Linked DNA regions of Homo sapiens: region 2 is linked to region 1. The links come from fine-mapping of genetic effects on gene expression. A gene starts in region 1. The other region holds a variant in brackets. All regions are shown on one strand. Distances are between the middles of the regions.

Region 1 (8,338 bases):
CTTCAACATCAAATCTTCTGATGCTTAACATTAGTTACGCTGTCATGTTACATAAGCAAGGAAAAGCTTGAATTCTGGTCCTTGCCACACGTTTCAAAATAGCTCTGCCTAGCAAGTTTCTGAATCTATTTAGCCTGAGATACAACCATATGAATCATCATCCTACATTTGTATAGAAGGCACTCTCCATTTACAAAGCACTTACATATATAGCGAATAGACAACAAACAGGGTTGACAGTCAAAAGGCATTATTTCATTTGATTCTTAAAACACACCTGATTGACAGTTAATAAGTGTTTCCATCTTAGAAACAAGATATCAGGGGCTTAGAGAAGTTGCACACCACCCAGAGTCCAGTGACAGTGCAAGAACAAGAATCCCAGGCTCTGGGTCCCAAGTCCAGGTCTGAATCAATCTCAGTCACACTAAAAAATGAAGGATATATGGAAACCTTGGTGTAGTATCAGTAGCCCAAGACTTGGAGTCAGAAGACTAGCAATCTGAACGCTGCTTACTTGTATTTGTGAGGCCTTAAGCAAATCATTTAGCTGAATCTTAGTTTTATCATCTCTGAAATAAAGATAATGACTCAAGCCCTACCTATTTCTCAGGATTATCATAAGAATGTCTGTGTCCTGCCAGCATCTGCTCCTGCTCTTCCAACCCCTATTCCCTTTGGACTCTCTACCCAGACCCCTTTCACCTGCTCAGACAAGGATTCTGTTGTTCAATATTGTTCCTCTTTCCTGGATCATCAAAATTTCCCTCTCTTCTCGATCTCAAACAAACATGCTGTAGTATCTTTAATCTTAAAATAAACATACAAAACATTCCTTGACCCAGGCCTACCATCAATTACAGATCCATATATCTACTCCTTTTTTATAGCAAATCACCACCAAAGAATTGCCCATACTTTGTTTCCTTCTTTTCTTTCCCCATTTTCCCCTGACCCACCTCAATCAGGCTTTTGTCCTCAGCACTCCAACAAAATAGTTCTTGTGAACTTCACCAATAAGTCTCCATCTTGCCAAACCATTTCTTAATGTTCACCTCAGGTGACCTCCCAACAGAACTGGGCCAATTAAAGCATCCCTCCTTCCTGAAACACTGTCAGTATTTGGCTTACAGGCTACTATAACTTTCTTAGTTTACTTTCTGTCTCATTGGGCTCCCCTTGTCAGCCTCCTTTTTTGGCTCCTCCTCCTCTTCATACCCTCTAAATGGAGGGGTGCCTAAGGTCCTCAGTCGTCATCACTCCTTGATAACCCCTTATCTTCCCATGCCTTTAAATACCATTGATCTCAGATGCTGAGGACTCTAGTCCTGGACTGTCTCCATTCATAGATGTAATTTAACTACCCAACAAATGATTAACTACCCAACAACTCTACTTGGATGTGTAATAGGATATCAAACTCAAGAGAATCGTTGATTTAACCTCCATAGCTGCATTCTCCCTAGACTTCCCTGTCTTGGTTAATGTCACCATCATTTGTTCAGTATTCAGAGGGACTAGGATGATGCAATGGAAGTGGTGTGAAGGAGTCAGTCTGGGATACGCTTTAAAAGTAGCTCCAGTATTACCTGCAAGTGGATTGACTCTGAGGAATAGACAACAAATAGGGTTGGCAGTCAAAAGGCAAAATTGAAAAGCAGATTTTTTGGGGAAGTCAGATGGTGATACTAACAAGAAAAATTAATCATTAAAAGGGAATAGGGAGGGCTGGTGTAGTCTACTAGTTACTGGGGTTGCAGTTAACTGACTGAACATTATTAAAATGTTTTATATAGATGGACCTGGTTAGTTGGATTGAATCTTAGCTGGTGTTTTTTGATATTCCAAATTTCTGTAGGAGGTTACTTAATTGGGAGACAAACGTAAGGGAAAAACATGAGAATGCAGCATCTAATAATTTAATAAGATTGAATTAGCAATGCAAAACAACAGCGGCAAACCAGACACAGGGGCAGATGGAAATTCAGAATTCCACAGGTCCAAGGCGCTGATATCAGTGATAGATAGACTTGGGTTTGCATCATCCTCTCCCTCAGTGATCTTGGGCAAGTTTTCCTTTCTCTCTAAGCCTCAGTTTTCTCTAAAATGGAGACCACACAGCAAACACCCACCCCAAAATTGTAGTTCATTTAAATAACACGTTTAACACAGAGCCTGCACTAAGACTTTATGATTTCCTCCTTACCTAAATAGAATTGATCATCAAGATGGCTGAGGCGGTGTTAGCTGTAATATTTAGGTTATGATTCCCCCAAAACCCTGTGGTCACATTGGACTTTGGGCTCCATTTTCCCAATCTCCATCGCCCCTAGCTGATAAAGAGAAGGGCCTAATGTGGAGCGGCAAACCTGAACCACCTCCAGGATGCACACTTCTTCAGGGGGTCGGCTACATATTTCCTCCTTTTTAAAGTTCCTGATTATTTTCAGTCCATCAGAGGTTAAGGGGCTTATCTCTTGACTAACCTCTCCTCCAAGCTGTATTAGTCAAACAGTTCAAACACAGTTGGATCAACAAGTCTTCTGGTGAAATAAGATTCGTGAAGAATGCCCTGAATCCTAGGTTGAAAGGCCTGAGTTGGGCAGAACAGTGACGTATGAACTTCAGATGAGGGCCTACACTTCTGACGGCTTAGACCCCACTGTAGGGGAGAGCGCTGGCTGCTTGCACTTGTAGCCCCACCTTATTCTGAGTAATTTTTTTTTTTTTTTTTTTTTTTTTTTTTTTTACCAATAACACACACTAGAGGGGTTGTCAAAATCCTCTATTTTTAGACAGGTTCCTCCCACCCCACCTTCGCATAATCCAGCTGCTCTGCAGAGGCAAAGAAAACACCCATTCAAGTTGGGTTCTGCCTTGAGGGACTTCCTCGCCGTGCCCTCGGCCAGGCCCCAGGCCGGCAGTGGGAGGGTCCGGCGCTTTGGGCTCCTGCAGGCCCCCGGGCTCCACCGGGAGACAGGTCAGCCGCGGCGCGGAGGGGTCGGGTCGCAGCGGCGAGCAGCCACCTGGCGCCCCTGGCCTCCGAGCGCGAGGGCGGCTTGGCACTTGCCCCTCTGGGGTGTCGGGGCGCCCCAGCCCGACCCGAGGCCACCGCTGGGCCGCGTACCTGCTCGGCGCCCGCCGCCTCGGCGTCCTCGTCCGGCGCGGGGCTGGCGCCGGGCCGCCCGCCGGCTTGCTCCGGGGGCTGCGCGGGCTGCTCGGACTCCTGCCCCGGGCCCTCGCTGCCGCCGCCCGGCCCTGGTTCTTCGGGCTCGGGCTCCGAGTCGGTCTGCCAGGTGGAGTCGCAGTCCTCCACGGTGGTGGGCTCGCGGAAGCTGACCCCGCCGAGCAGGTTGCCCATTGAAGAGGCGGCGGCGGGCGCGGGGCTGCGGGGCTGCGGGGCGCAAGCTGCGGCAGGCGCTCTAGGGCCCGGGCATGGCCGCGGCGAGGGCGCTGGGCGGCAGCCTAGGCGCGCCCGCCCCGCACTGCCTCAGCGCGGCGAGCGGCGGACAGGCACCCTCGCGGGGAGGAGCCGGCGGCCCCGGGACCGCCGCCGCGCGCGCCTGAACCCGCCCATCCGGCTCCTTCTCCTCCCCACAGGCGGGAGCTGCCGCCGCCCAGAGCCCCCAGGGGAGCCAACTGCGGCCCCCAGCCGAGCGCCACCGGCCCCAGGCCGCGCCTCCCTTCCACGTTTCTCCCCGGAACACCTGCCTTCACGCGGCCCCCGGCGGCCCCCGGAGTGGATTGGGGTCGGCTACTACCCTCGCCGCCCGGAGCCGGGGGACGCCCTCCCGGGGCATCTCCCAGCTGAGCGGGATGAGGGATCCCGCCCAGCTCCTGGAGCTGAGGACTGGCGTGGACGTGGTGTCGAAGAGGTGTCACCGTCAGCAGGCGGGTCCTGTCCACACCCCCTCCCCCTCTCCCTGGTCCAGGAGGAAGACACTTTAGCTGCAGCAGAGGACAAAAGCTGATGGTGCCGGGCACCATATAAACAGGAAATCCCAGCTGCCACAACTGTACTTAGGGCAGCCACCTAGAGTCCTTGTGGTCTAGAAAAAGTCAGAGCTATCAGTCACCTCATCTAATGAGCAATCGCTCGTGAAACAAAAGGAACAGTAACAACTGGACCATCACATTGATTTGCGGGTAACCTTACACCCACTACAAATTGGTGCTCCGTGTAGGCAAAAATCTCAGAATCAGTAGAACAGATGGGCTGTTTCTAATGGAAGAAGCCTCGGCCCTGTGGTCTGTTCTGCAAATGAAAGGAGGAGGGAGAACTGTGTTAGGGAAGTTCTTTCTTTTTTCTGTTCTGTTCTGTTCTGTTCTGTTCTGTTCTGTTCTGTTCTGTTCTGTTCTGTTCTGTTGTTCTGTTCTTTCTTTTCTTTCTTTTTGAGACAGAGTCTCCCTCTGTTGCCCAGGCTGCAGTGCAGAGGCGCGATCTCGGCTCACTGCAACCTCCGCCTCCTGGTTTCAAGCAATTCTCCTGCCTCAGCCTCCCAATAGCTGGGATTACAGGCATAAGCCTATAGAAGTACGTAAAGATAAGGTAGTATTATCAAATATGTGACCCAGAGAAAAGTGACTGTTGTAAAATGTGTCTTCTGGCTTTCTAACTAGAAGGGAAGCCTCTTTGCAGGCAGCCCCCGTCTGAAAGTGTGTCTGTATTTACAGTGCTGTCAACTTGGTGGATGCTCAGTAAACATTTGTTAAATATGGACTAAGAAAGATGAGCTAGATATTTGAAGATTAAACTGTTGAACTTGGAATGAATAGTTTCTTTTCAAATGTTTCATGATGAAGTAGGAAGCCAAATCATGTTAGATGGACTGTTTCTAAGGGAAGAATCAGGTAAACCAGCTGCCTATTCCATGGATAAATCAGGATTACCTAAGCTCTTCATGCACTGCAACAAGACATCTAGGCTGTAGCTCTGTCACTAATCAGTTTCTGACTTTAAGTAGGTCACATGAACCTAAACTTCCTCATTTGTAAAATGAAACCAGATCTCTGGGAGCCCTTCCAGCTCTGACCTTCTGTGATCCTATGACTGGGAAAAGCTCTGAAACTAATAAGAAATAGACACGGGGTGCACAAAAAGACTTTTGGGGCCGGGTGCGGTGGCTCACGCCTGTAATCCCAGAACTTTGGGAGGCCGAGGCGGGCAGATCACCTGAGGTCAGATGTTCAAGACCAGCCTGGCCAACATGACGAAACCTCATCTCCACAAAAAAATATAAAAATTAGCCTGGCTTGGTGGCGGGCGCCTGTAATCCCAGCTACTTGGGAGGCTGAGGCACGAGAATCACTTGAACGCGGGAGGTGGAGGTTGCAGTGAGCTGAGATCAGGCCACTGCACTCCAGCCTGGGCGACAGAGTGAGACTCCATTGCCCCCACCCCCCGCCAAAAAAAATACTTTTTGATTATAATGGCTTAGCAGAAGAAGATGTGGGGCAGCCACATACCACAGGAATCCAACTGCTCAAAGCTGGGAATTCGATTTTCCGTTGGTAGAAGACCGGAACACATTGCAGAAGTAGATATTGTCCATCCAGCCTTAAGTGTTCCGAGATTGTTGATGTGGAAAGTCTAAGGATAGTTGTTGTGTCCCAGGCGCTCCATCTGTTGGTTTAGGTGTATGTAGATTAAAGTTGGCCACATGTTCTTTGCTCTCTTCCCATTGAGAAGTAGTCTTATTCCTTACTCTTGAAGGAGCTGGCCTCAGTGACTTGCTTAACTATAGAATATGAAAGAAGTGATAGTCCAGGATTTTCTAAGTTAAGCCATAAGGAACCTTGCATTTTCCACTGGGTCTCTTGGAATATTCTCTCTGTTAGCCCCATGCTGCCATGTAAAAAGTTCAGCTAGCTTGAGACTGCCATACTCCTAGAAAGGCCACTTGTGTGTGGCCTCTGGTCATCCTCTGGTCATGGTACCAGCTGAGGCCTACCTTCCAGTATCCCCTGCTGGATTCCACGTTTTTGTTTTTTTTTTTTTATTGAATCCTCCAGACCAACCCATCCACCATCTGAATACCTTTCAGTGACCTCCATCGACCCTACTTGGAATAAAGGGACTACCCAGCAAAGCCCTGCTCAGATTTCTGACCCACAGAAGAGTGAAATGCAATAAAATGGCTGTTGCTTTAGGTCACTAAATTTTGTAGTAGTTTGTTATACATCAGTAGATGATGGAATGGTGAGAAGTATCTGTGTTTGTGCATATAAACATTTAAGTAACTACTGCAATTAAATCCTTCCCTTTTACACCACCTTTTGAAAAATGTGTCAATTTTTATAGGACCATAGATGATATGCCAGATTTTGCAATATATTTTCTAAAGAACATAATTTTACATGAAGCGTAACACCAACCTTATATAATATTTAATCAATTTTAAGTTTAGAGCAATAAGCACGACCACATTGTGCCCAATCTATGTGTTATTTTTACAAGTTAATGCTGAAGTTCTGTCATCCCAAGCTTCTATACACAGGAATTATCCTTCTCGAATACCTAAACTTTTTTCATTATCCCTGCCTTGCAGAGTATTTAACATTCCTGCATCAACAGTAAAGAAGGGTACCTTTGCTTCATATAAAAATCATCACTTAGCTCAGTGCCAGGCATCTATTAATTTATCAATATATGTTAGCTGTAATGATGATTCATTCAATATGTCTTTAAAGAACATATAATTCAACAGTAATATACACATGTATGGAACAAGGAGAAACTATTATCACAATGGACTATAATATAGTTTCTGACTCCCTGTAAATAGAATCTGCTCTAAATTAAGCAGATGCTATAGCCATGCTTCAATATAACTCTGTTTTCAACTTCGTTATGAAATCCTTTAAGGGTGAGGCCATTTTACAAAGGACAAAGAAACTGGTGCTTCAGGAACTAAACTTTTTTGGATGAAACCCAAATGTATCTGGCATATCTTGAATTGTCTTTTATAGTCAATCCTGTTTTAGGGACATTAACAAAGGTTTATTATTACATAATTTGAGAGTCTTTCAAATAAAAGGAAAGGGCAGATCAAGGGCCATTTTCCCCAACCTCAGGAGTTAACTCCTCAGTACCTCACAGGAACCTGAAATCTTTGGAGGAAAAAAAAATAGTATTATTTTAAAAATTAAAAATAATAAAGATGGCTCTCTAAAGAAACATCTGAAATTAGTAGTAACATGCTGTAATATTATTTTCCATTGACTGTAGCCAAGGGCCTCTGCTAGCACCCATGAGAACTTTGTGTTCTTGAGAATAAGACACCTTTGCTCCAGGGCTTAGTGAGCAGGGCCTGAACTGGAGTTCCCTCCCACCACCTTAACTGAACTCTTCATGCAGGACACAGCATGTACAACCTCACATAGAGTTCCTGACCAGACAAGACTTGCTGGAAATTTCCCAGGATCTTCCTTCCTTAAGGTAGGAGTTTATAATAGGTTATAATTTATGAAAACAAAATATTTTTTCCTCCTTCCTCCCTGCAAATATTCTATACTTTTTGTATGATTCTGAGATATCTTCTCCTGTATCCTTGCCAACCACTAACATCACCATAGCCCCTCTTACAAAAATCTTTCTTTCTTTTTGGACAATGCAATTGTGCAATTCAGTGTTTTTCTGCATGTTTCTTTTATCTTTCTAAGGCTTGTTGCAAAAATATCTCTGCTGTCCATTACCTCTTCCTTAATATTCTTTCTTCTTATTCTTCTCAAAGAAATGACCAGCAATTAAAGCAATTCCTGTATACCAAAAACAAAGCTTTCAAGGTTGTTTTAAATGGGATACAGAAATAAACACACATACGTCTAATTTCAACTAAACTGAACTTGTAGTAGCAAAGAGATTTCTGCATTTTTTTTTCTTTTGAGATGGAGTCTCGCTCTGTCACCCAGGCTGGAGTGCAATGGCTCAATCTCAGCTCACTGCAACCTCCGCCTCCTGGGTTCAAGTGATTCTCCTGCCTCAGCCTCCCAAGTATCTGAGACTACAGGCATGCGCCACCATGCCTGGCTAATTTTTGTATTTTTAGCAGAGACGGGGTTTTGCCATGTTGGCCAGGCTGGTCTTGAAACCCTGACCTCAGGTGATCCACACAGTTCGGCCTCCCAAAGTGCTGGGATTACAGGTGTGAGCCACCGCGCCCAGCCTGCATTTTTTATTATAGATATAAAGGGTCAAATATTTTACTATCAAATATTGGTAACAAATGAATTGAATTCCCTCACTGGCACCTAAACTGCTGCCAAGACTCTTCTGAACCCGTGTGGTCTTCCAAATCTTATATATCAAATGTATCAAAAAATAGCAGGATATGTTGTG
Region 2 (8,338 bases), 37 kb after region 1:
AGGCTAGGTGTCCTAGTACGCAGCACCTGAGGTAAAAATTTATTATTAGGAAGTTTAATAACCAAGAAGCAGGAATGAGAGAAAATCAGAGTGAGGCACTGAAAGAGGGAGAAAAATACTGAGGCCACAGCTTTGTGAAAAGCTGACGACTGCTGAGTGGACAAGGCAGCTTCAGAAAGGAAGTTTAAAGATATGCTTCTCCACACAGTCCTTCTAAAAAGAAGAAAGTGTGATTTGCCCAGTCTCATCTCCTTCTGGGCAAAGATTGCACCATGGAATAATTCCTATACACTTACAGGTTGCATAGTTATTGGTGTCAAGAGAGTCCTCAGCAACAATGAGTCCCCAGGGTAGAAAGCAAAAGATCCTGCAGGGGCAGGAGGCAAGATATTGTCAGGTCATGTCCTTAGGTGACACGAGGGACCAAAGGCAGCTGCCACAGCAGGCCCCTTTCAGCAGCAGCGGCAGAAGCAGTGACCTGACTTCATCACCATGGGAACAGCAGCTGTCACTGCTAGATTCAGTCACTGCGGATCTGGGGTGGTTCATAAACTGAATCCCATGCAACTACTATTTTGGCAGATCTGGGAAATTGTCTTCTGGTACTTCAATTGTTTTATTTTGCTCATTCCCATTTTAAAGCTCCAAGAGCTCTTTCTTGATCTCTATTTATTCCTTTCTTGAGTATCCTATTCTTGATTTAAGGTCATGATACTTTCTCAAATATCCATGAGAACATTAGTTAGATTTTAAACGTTTTCTTCTATTAGGAGGCAGCCTGCCTAGTGATTAAGAGGATGGACTCTAAAGCCAGACAGCCTGGATTTGATTCTCAGCTCTGCTGTGGATTTACAACCTTGGGGAACTTGTCTGTGCCTTAGTTTTGATGGAGTTCAGGACACAGTACTCCAAAAGATGACATCTTGGCATAATGATTAAGAAAATGGCAGGAGCGGCAGAAAGGTCTCTCTGACCTGGAAGGAATTTTCTGACCTTCTGAAGCAGGTCCTAAAACTCTGATGTGAGAGGTACCCTCCCTATACCTGGGAGGAAGGAACATCCTGTCTTCAAAGATGAACACAGTGGCATCTGAACAAACAGGCCTTGCCAAGTTTCCACCAGTTTACTACACTTACCTCATACTCCACCTTATAGTATTTCTGCACAACTGTCCACACTTCTTCAAACCTGCTATAAAAACCACTCCCATTTCACATTTGAACGCTTTCTTCAGGTCTTCATTTCCTAATGAAGGCTCCTGTGTTACATAAAACTTATATGAAATAAATAGATGTGCTCTTCTCTTGTTAATCTGTCTTTTGTTACAGGGGCCCAACCAATAAACCTAAGATGGGTAGAAGGAAAAGGTATTTTTCTCCCCTACAGTTTCTTTTCTTTTTGTTTTTCTTTTGTTTTTTTTTGGTTGTGTGTTTCAAACAGATATAAAATACCTATTACACAAAAATTTAAAACTACCAATTTGTTAAACTTAGAAAAGATACTGATTTGTAACTAAAAAAAAAAAACCTTTACATTTTTATTTCTCAAGGTAGCTTACCTCTACTTTCTGAAAGTTGTAAAATTTTTGGTTTAAAAATTGTCACTCTATGATTGTCCCAATTTGTTTTTCTATGCCATGACAAAAACAAAATACTTTCAAAATGTTCTGAGCATTTAAATGAACATTTAAGTGTATGTAAATAAACTTATTTAAGTAACTTTTATGTTGGTAATAAACCAACACATGCATTAAATACCTCTTCAGCGTAAACAGGAAATACTGATGACGATGCCAGCATGGAACTGTCAATTCACATTACAGCACAATTAATAATCAATCTGACTAGTTTAGTGATATTTAAAGGACACAATTAGTCACTATATCTGCCAGAATAATTGAATATGTTAACATTCTCCTCGCGTAAATACCAATTTCATTATCTCATATCTTTCTCTTTACTCGTCTCCAGATAGCAATAGCCCTCCCTGTGTGGGTCATGTAGAAATGACCCAGAACTTGTTGGTCTAATATTTTCGGTCTAATTCTTTCCAACCTTTGGTAAACTTAGAAAGCCTGCAGGGATCTCATATTGATGATTTTCAATCTTTTAATTGTGATAGTCTTTTTGTTATTCTGTCTTTTCACCTTCCTTTGCCTGTCCATCTATAATTTTCAATTCAAGTTTATATCAGTCTCTTTCTTGAAACCTGGAGATTTCATCAGCCACAGATTTCCTTTTTTTTTTTTTTTTTTTTTTTTTTGCCTTTTCCTTTATTTCCTTTTCAAGCCTCAAAAATTCTTCCTGTTTTTACTTCTGCTGGGTATTACTTTCAGGTAGTAATTTTAGTTTACATTGACATTGATGGTTTTTTTGCCACTTTGTCTCTTTCTCTTCTTCCTCTTTTAGCTTCCTTAAAATATAAGCATATTTAATTGACACTTAAATATTTTTCTGTTTTTTCTAAGCTTCAATCACCAATTTGGTTTTTTTGCTCCTCTTTTTGCTTGTGATTACATTCTTGTTTACTTTGAGGAAGGACTGGCTTATCCTTCATCTTTCCCTTTAACTTGAAAGTATTCTCCCTGTTTGCTGTTTTTTAGTTTTCCAATTTTGAATAGATTTTTTTTCCTCTCTTCTAGAGTCAGACATTTTTAATGTATCTTTCATACTGTTGCACTTTATCCTGTGCTTTTCCAGGATGGTGTTGCAAAACTTTCCCTATATATCTTGTCTTCTTTTTATGTTTGTTTCTCATTTTTACAAAGTTCTGGTGATCACAATCATCCAGCACCCTTGACATCCTCCTGTTTACTGAAGGAATTTTGCAAAATCTACCATTTCTCCTGGAAGACTACTTTGTTGTATTCTGTCTACAGGAACTTTGCTTAACATTCCTCTGAAAGTTCTCCATGTTTCTAGTGACCCAAAGCCCATATGTCAATTTTCCTTGATACAGTATTCAACTAATTTTTGGCTATTTTCTTGTCTTTATTAAGCTTTTCATGTAATCAACCTCTGTTCTTTCTTAAAACTGTTTACTGTATTTTTAATTGCTTAGGTTCATTTCTCTGAGCTTTGCAACAAAATCAGGTGTAGGTGTCACACTTTATAACTGATGCTAAAGTCACTTTACATTGTTATATATTTTGAACAACTGTTATTGGGTTTTTGCTCTATTTTCCTGCTGATAATCAATTTATTTTCCAATTCTTTCAGCACACTGCCAAATTCTGAAGTTTTGTTGTTGTTGTTGTTGTAGAGATGACTCTATGTTAACAATTTGATTTTTAATTTTTACTGCTGTACATATGAACTTTGTTTTCTTAGTTTGAATAGCTCTCTGGTTCCAGTTTGAAGCTGAAAAGGTTAAATTCTACCTGAAGGATGAAAACAACCAACATTCTGTGCCAAGACAGTCAGGAGGGCAACCATGTTTCCTGGTGGAGCCTCTGGAACCACTCAAGCCAAGATGACCGGGGGTTTGGCTGGGAGGAGATGGGGAAACTACAGACCCTACAGATGGTTTCCTGTACCATGAGGTTAAGCCTGGGGGCAGGAGAGGCTGTACCTTAGTTCCTTCATCTGTAAAATAAAGTAACATAGTACCTACCTCATAAGGGTGTTCTAATGATTGAACTTATTATACGTAAACTTTGAACAGTTTGTGGCTCAGATTATTATTTCTAGTTTCTCAGATCAGTTTTTCTGTATTTTGACCTTGCTTATTCTTTTGAATGCTGCTGACAGTTCTCACATTTCTCTTTATCCTTTGTTGTCCAGCCAGGTTTTAAAAAGAAGGTGTAGATCACTAGGGTTTCTTTCCTCTGCTGTTGCATGAGTAGGATTATTTTCCTTCTAGGTCTCTGTAAGAAGAGTTTTGACCGAGAACTTCATGCACTCTGTTGAAATGGAGCACATCTGCTATAAAACTTCACTTTAGGGGCTGATGAGCAGGAACTGAATGTCAAGCTATAGATCCCTAAATAAGGTTGGCTTTCATATGCCCTATATCCTTTTCAAGATTTCAGTTAATAGGGCATTAAATGGGAGTAGTGATGATACACTAAAGTGGTAGATATTGTGAAAAGAATGTATAGAGTACAATAAAATCTTTACATAAGTTCTGCACTTGACAAGGGAGAAGAATCAATTGCTTAATTAAAAGTGAAATGTTTTTATCACTTTGAGATAATGCCCTAGGATGATTTTGAAAGTGACATGTAGTTGACTCTCTAGAATTGAGAGTAATTCTAGAATCATTATGATATTTTTTTGTGCATCCTTTAATTTTATTTAATAGGACAATAGATTTTTATTTCCCCCAGGCCGAGGCAA[T/C]GGAGTATCTTTGAGTAATCTGCAAGCTGGTCCAAAGGGAATAACAAAGGAGGAAATATTCTTCGTAAACAAGCCCTGCAACCCAAAAGTGGAGTAAGAATTTCCTGTCCCAGTCTTAGGAGATGGTCAAAAGCTCTGCATATTTCTCCACTGAATTAGATTTCATAACTTCCTGTGATGTCATTTGCTATTTTTCCCCTGGCTTGAGTTAGGACTTCCCTTTCAGAGTTTTGTCAACCCAGTTTTCTTTAGACCACTTTAGAAGCAAGAATATCTACTACAGATTCATGAAAAGAGCACTGAATAAGAAGTTAGGATAAGTGGATTTCTAAGGCCAATTTTCCTTCTTACAATTTGACTTCAGAAACGAGTACTCATACCAAGCTCACATTTCCTAAATAATTCACATTCTTGAAAGGTAGAAAGAGCTGTCTTACGAAATGGTGTGTTTCCTGTCATTGAAAGTATGCCAAAAGATGCTTGAAAACCACTTCTTAAGACTCTTGTGCAATTTTCATATAATAAGATTAGACTTGATGGTTCTATAAAAAAAACTCTCTGAATCTTGAAACTCAATGATTCTGTGCTTTAGTTCTATGAAGAGAAGAGAAGCAGGGAGGGAATGATGAAGGGATCTAGCATATCTATTCAGCCTTGTGTGGATTTCAGCCTTGGTCTCTGGAGATGCTTCAAGCTTCCTAAAGTGGTACTTCTGCCTGTCCATTCTGACTCCATCCTTAGATACCCACTTTCTGATCCAAAATAAGCATGTCCATATGAATATGTTTAAGTCAGAGGCAGCTAGATGTGTACCCATAACTGGAGGGTGGCTAACCAGTGCAAACATAGATTTCTTTACATTCTTATTCTTCTTTTTAAAAATCTTATGACTTTTAAATTGTATCTCATAATACCTCTGTTCTAACATAAGATAATATTTTAAATTATCAATTATTGGCGGTGATGAACTTGCCCCAATCCATCTATGCAGATGTTTCTTCCTATGCACAGGGCAAATGCATTTAGTTTAAGAAGCTCAGGGCAACACATTTGACTGGCACACTGGATTCAGGTTTATTATCCATGGTCTTCTCACATCTTTGGAGTCTGTCTTTGCAAGACCCACCCCCTCCATCATACCAGGTCCCCATCTAATATGGAAGGAGGAATCTAATGATAGGAGAGGTTCATGGTGTTGTTTAAATAGCCCCCTCTCAGCTCATTCAAGCAGCTCTTCTCAGTCGACTCTGAACTGCTTACAATGACACATTATAGTAGAATTATTTCAGAGACCTTTTTCAACTCAATCTGGGTGTGCCTCATTGAGCTAATAAAATCCTCACCCCTGAGAAATGGTGTAATATGTGTTACATTTTGCTACAATTCATGATATGTCTTTGGAGAAGAATTGTACATTTTATATAATTTGTCAAGGACAATTTCAAAATGCATAACATCATCAATCTCACTGACAACATCGCTAATGGCTTCACTCAGTAGTCAGAGTTTTGCCAAATGCAAGCTAAGACTCAGGCCATCACACACCTGCTCCCAGCCTATTGTTTCAGATGTATCATCTGTTGAAAAGTTAACAGAGTAGGAAAAGAATTCATCCTTGAAGCATTTCCCCTCTAATTAAGTCAACAGATGCTGTTTGAAGTCTATACCTGGGGAATTTATTACTTCAGTTTTAAAAAGTAAGAGAAATTCACAGATCTGCCTTCATAATAATTGTGTTTTTTTTTTATCAAGGTCACCAGCCTAGTAATAACTGATAGTAGTCAAGAATTTGTGATGGTTGTCATTTTCAAAAACATTGGAATGACATTTTCCAAAAGTGCTTTCATTTGAATTATCATCTGGGCTTTATTGCTCCTGGGCTGGGCTCTCCCTCTCTTGGCGGGAGGCTAGACAGAGCTAGCCTTGCTCAAATGGGCTTAAGGGGTTGGGGGAGGTGGCAGGAAGTAGCTCTCAGGACCTTAATGGTTGGATGGAGGCAGACAGCAAACAGTGAAGTCAGAGGTCAAAGTCAGAAATGCATAGCTAAACCAGTCACCAGGGCAGAAACATCCTGAGGCATGCAACAGTTAACTGGTACAGCCTGTGAGTCAAAGAGCCAGTGAAAATGAGAACATGCTCCTTCTGCAAGGAGAAGTAAGCAAGATGGTATTCTTGGGAAATAGCCAAGAAGATGAGCTCTTGCTGTCTGCTGAAGTGTGAGAAGCCATGACAAAAGTGACACCCAGTGACCTGTGTAGGCTTTAGTTTCTTTATGTGTTTCCTGGTCTCCTTGCCTAATATGGGTATGGAAAAGATCACATTCAATCTTATATGTGAAGTCTAATATATTATCATCATTGTAATTGTTAAAATTTGTTTTACAATTAAGAAATAGATGGAAAGATAGATAACCTAAGAAAAACTAAAAAACAAAAAACAAACAAACAAAAAAAACAGCTGCATAAGAATATTTTCCTTTTGTGGCAGAACAAAATAGGGCCAAACATTTTGGTGTGCTGTTTTCTTTCAATTTAGTCTGTTCTTGTTAGTTTCTGATCAAAGTACTTACTTAGCATTCATGATTGCTAACATTTGTGATAATTATAATTTATGAGCAAATTATCTATTGTTACCATGACAGTCCTGGTATTTTCACAGATCAAAATTTATATACAAGAAAAAAAATCCTAACATGAAAGAATTAGATTTTTTTTAACACCAGGTCTCAAATTACCCACCTACTTTGACAGTTCTAGTGTCTTGATTGAATATTTTATGATGATACTACTTAAGATAAAAATGTAAAAGCTAATTTATAGTGACATCTCTTTATGGAAAAGGTCCCCAAGCTGATTTATTACCAGGTTGAAACATGTCAGTGAATACAAACATTTCTAAGGTAAAGAGACTTTTCAATTTTCTTTCACACTCTGTCATACAGCTTCAGCTAAATAATTTATATGAAAAACAGGGTATTTTAATTTTACAATATGCCACTTTATTTTCCTATGATATCTCTTTTAGTTTTATTCTTCAATTCGATTTGATACCTGCTATGTTCTGTACTGAGTAATAAATTTGGAAGCTATTCCCAATTATAATTCATTTTGATACCTGCACATTTGAGGGAACATAATGCCAAAGATTCAAACTTAGTTCTTCTCAGACTAGATTCTTTACTTATCACCCTCTATTCAGCAACAAAGTAGGTAATCAGTTGCCAAATTGATGCTGTTTTTCCAGTTTTCTAACTGTCTCTGCCATCCTGATTTCGTCTCCTGTTAAATTTATTACGTTATGTCATTCTGAAAGGAATTTAGAGAAAGTACACACATATATAAAATTATTTAATCATATTTTTGGTTGAGGAAGAAGGGGTTAAGGGACTATGTCTAATGATTTACTTACAGTTCTATAGAACTATTCACTAATACAATTAATAAAATAATGCACCGTAATTATAATATAATTTAAATATTCAGGAGCTCTGGGTAGTGATAGATGAATATAATTGCTGAGGTTTAAAAGGATTTTTATAAGTGAATTCATTTCAAGGATTATTAAAGGGCAAACAGATGACATGAGATTTTATATTGGTGGTAGTTTGTGTTACAGGAGCATTAGTGGTATTGTAAAGTAAGAAAGAGAAGATGAAGCCAGGAAGGTGCTATAAGCAGGACAAAGAAGAAACAGCAAAGGAAGCACAAGCTGAAGAGGAAACTGCTTATGGCTTAGCGCAATATCTTCTGGGACAGTGCATGATACAGGAGGTGGCAGTGACAGTAGTTCAGTGGGAAAGAAAGATGTGTTTGGTGACAGCATTTTGGTGAGAGGAAACAGGAGAAAATAGGGAAAAGATTAAGGGCAGAGAGAGACCAGATGGTGATCATAATGAGCCAAAACCCAAAAATGTCATGGACTCAAACCTTAGCCGTAGAGACCCAATGAAATGGAAAATTAACAAAAATAGAAAAAATATAATTTATTTTCATAATTTAATG

What was found. PIP is the estimated chance that this variant, and not a neighbour inherited with it, causes the effect.
Region 2: its variant is fine-mapped to the expression of OGFRL1 in whole blood (TOPMed, PIP above 0.99).

Annotation. Positions count from the first base shown.
Region 1 is chr6:71,283,960-71,292,297 of GRCh38, reverse strand. It overlaps OGFRL1 (opioid growth factor receptor like 1), which reads right to left and starts at 3,487. Exons shown (of 7, transcript NM_024576.5): 1 at 3,128-3,487. The coding sequence starts at 3,361. LOC124901339 (a long non-coding RNA gene) reads left to right here. Exons shown (of 6, transcript XR_007059640.1): 4 at 7,358-7,438. RefSeq lists a silencer at 2,775-3,834.
Region 2 is chr6:71,246,636-71,254,973 of GRCh38, reverse strand. LOC124901339 (a long non-coding RNA gene) reads left to right here. Exons shown (of 6, transcript XR_007059640.1): 6 at 3,330-3,616. It also overlaps the pseudogene LOC100132834. Among named protein-coding and RNA genes, the nearest start is that of OGFRL1, 38 kb to the left of the region's middle. RefSeq lists a silencer at 3,232-3,499. The variant T/C (reference allele first, on the strand shown) is at 4,338.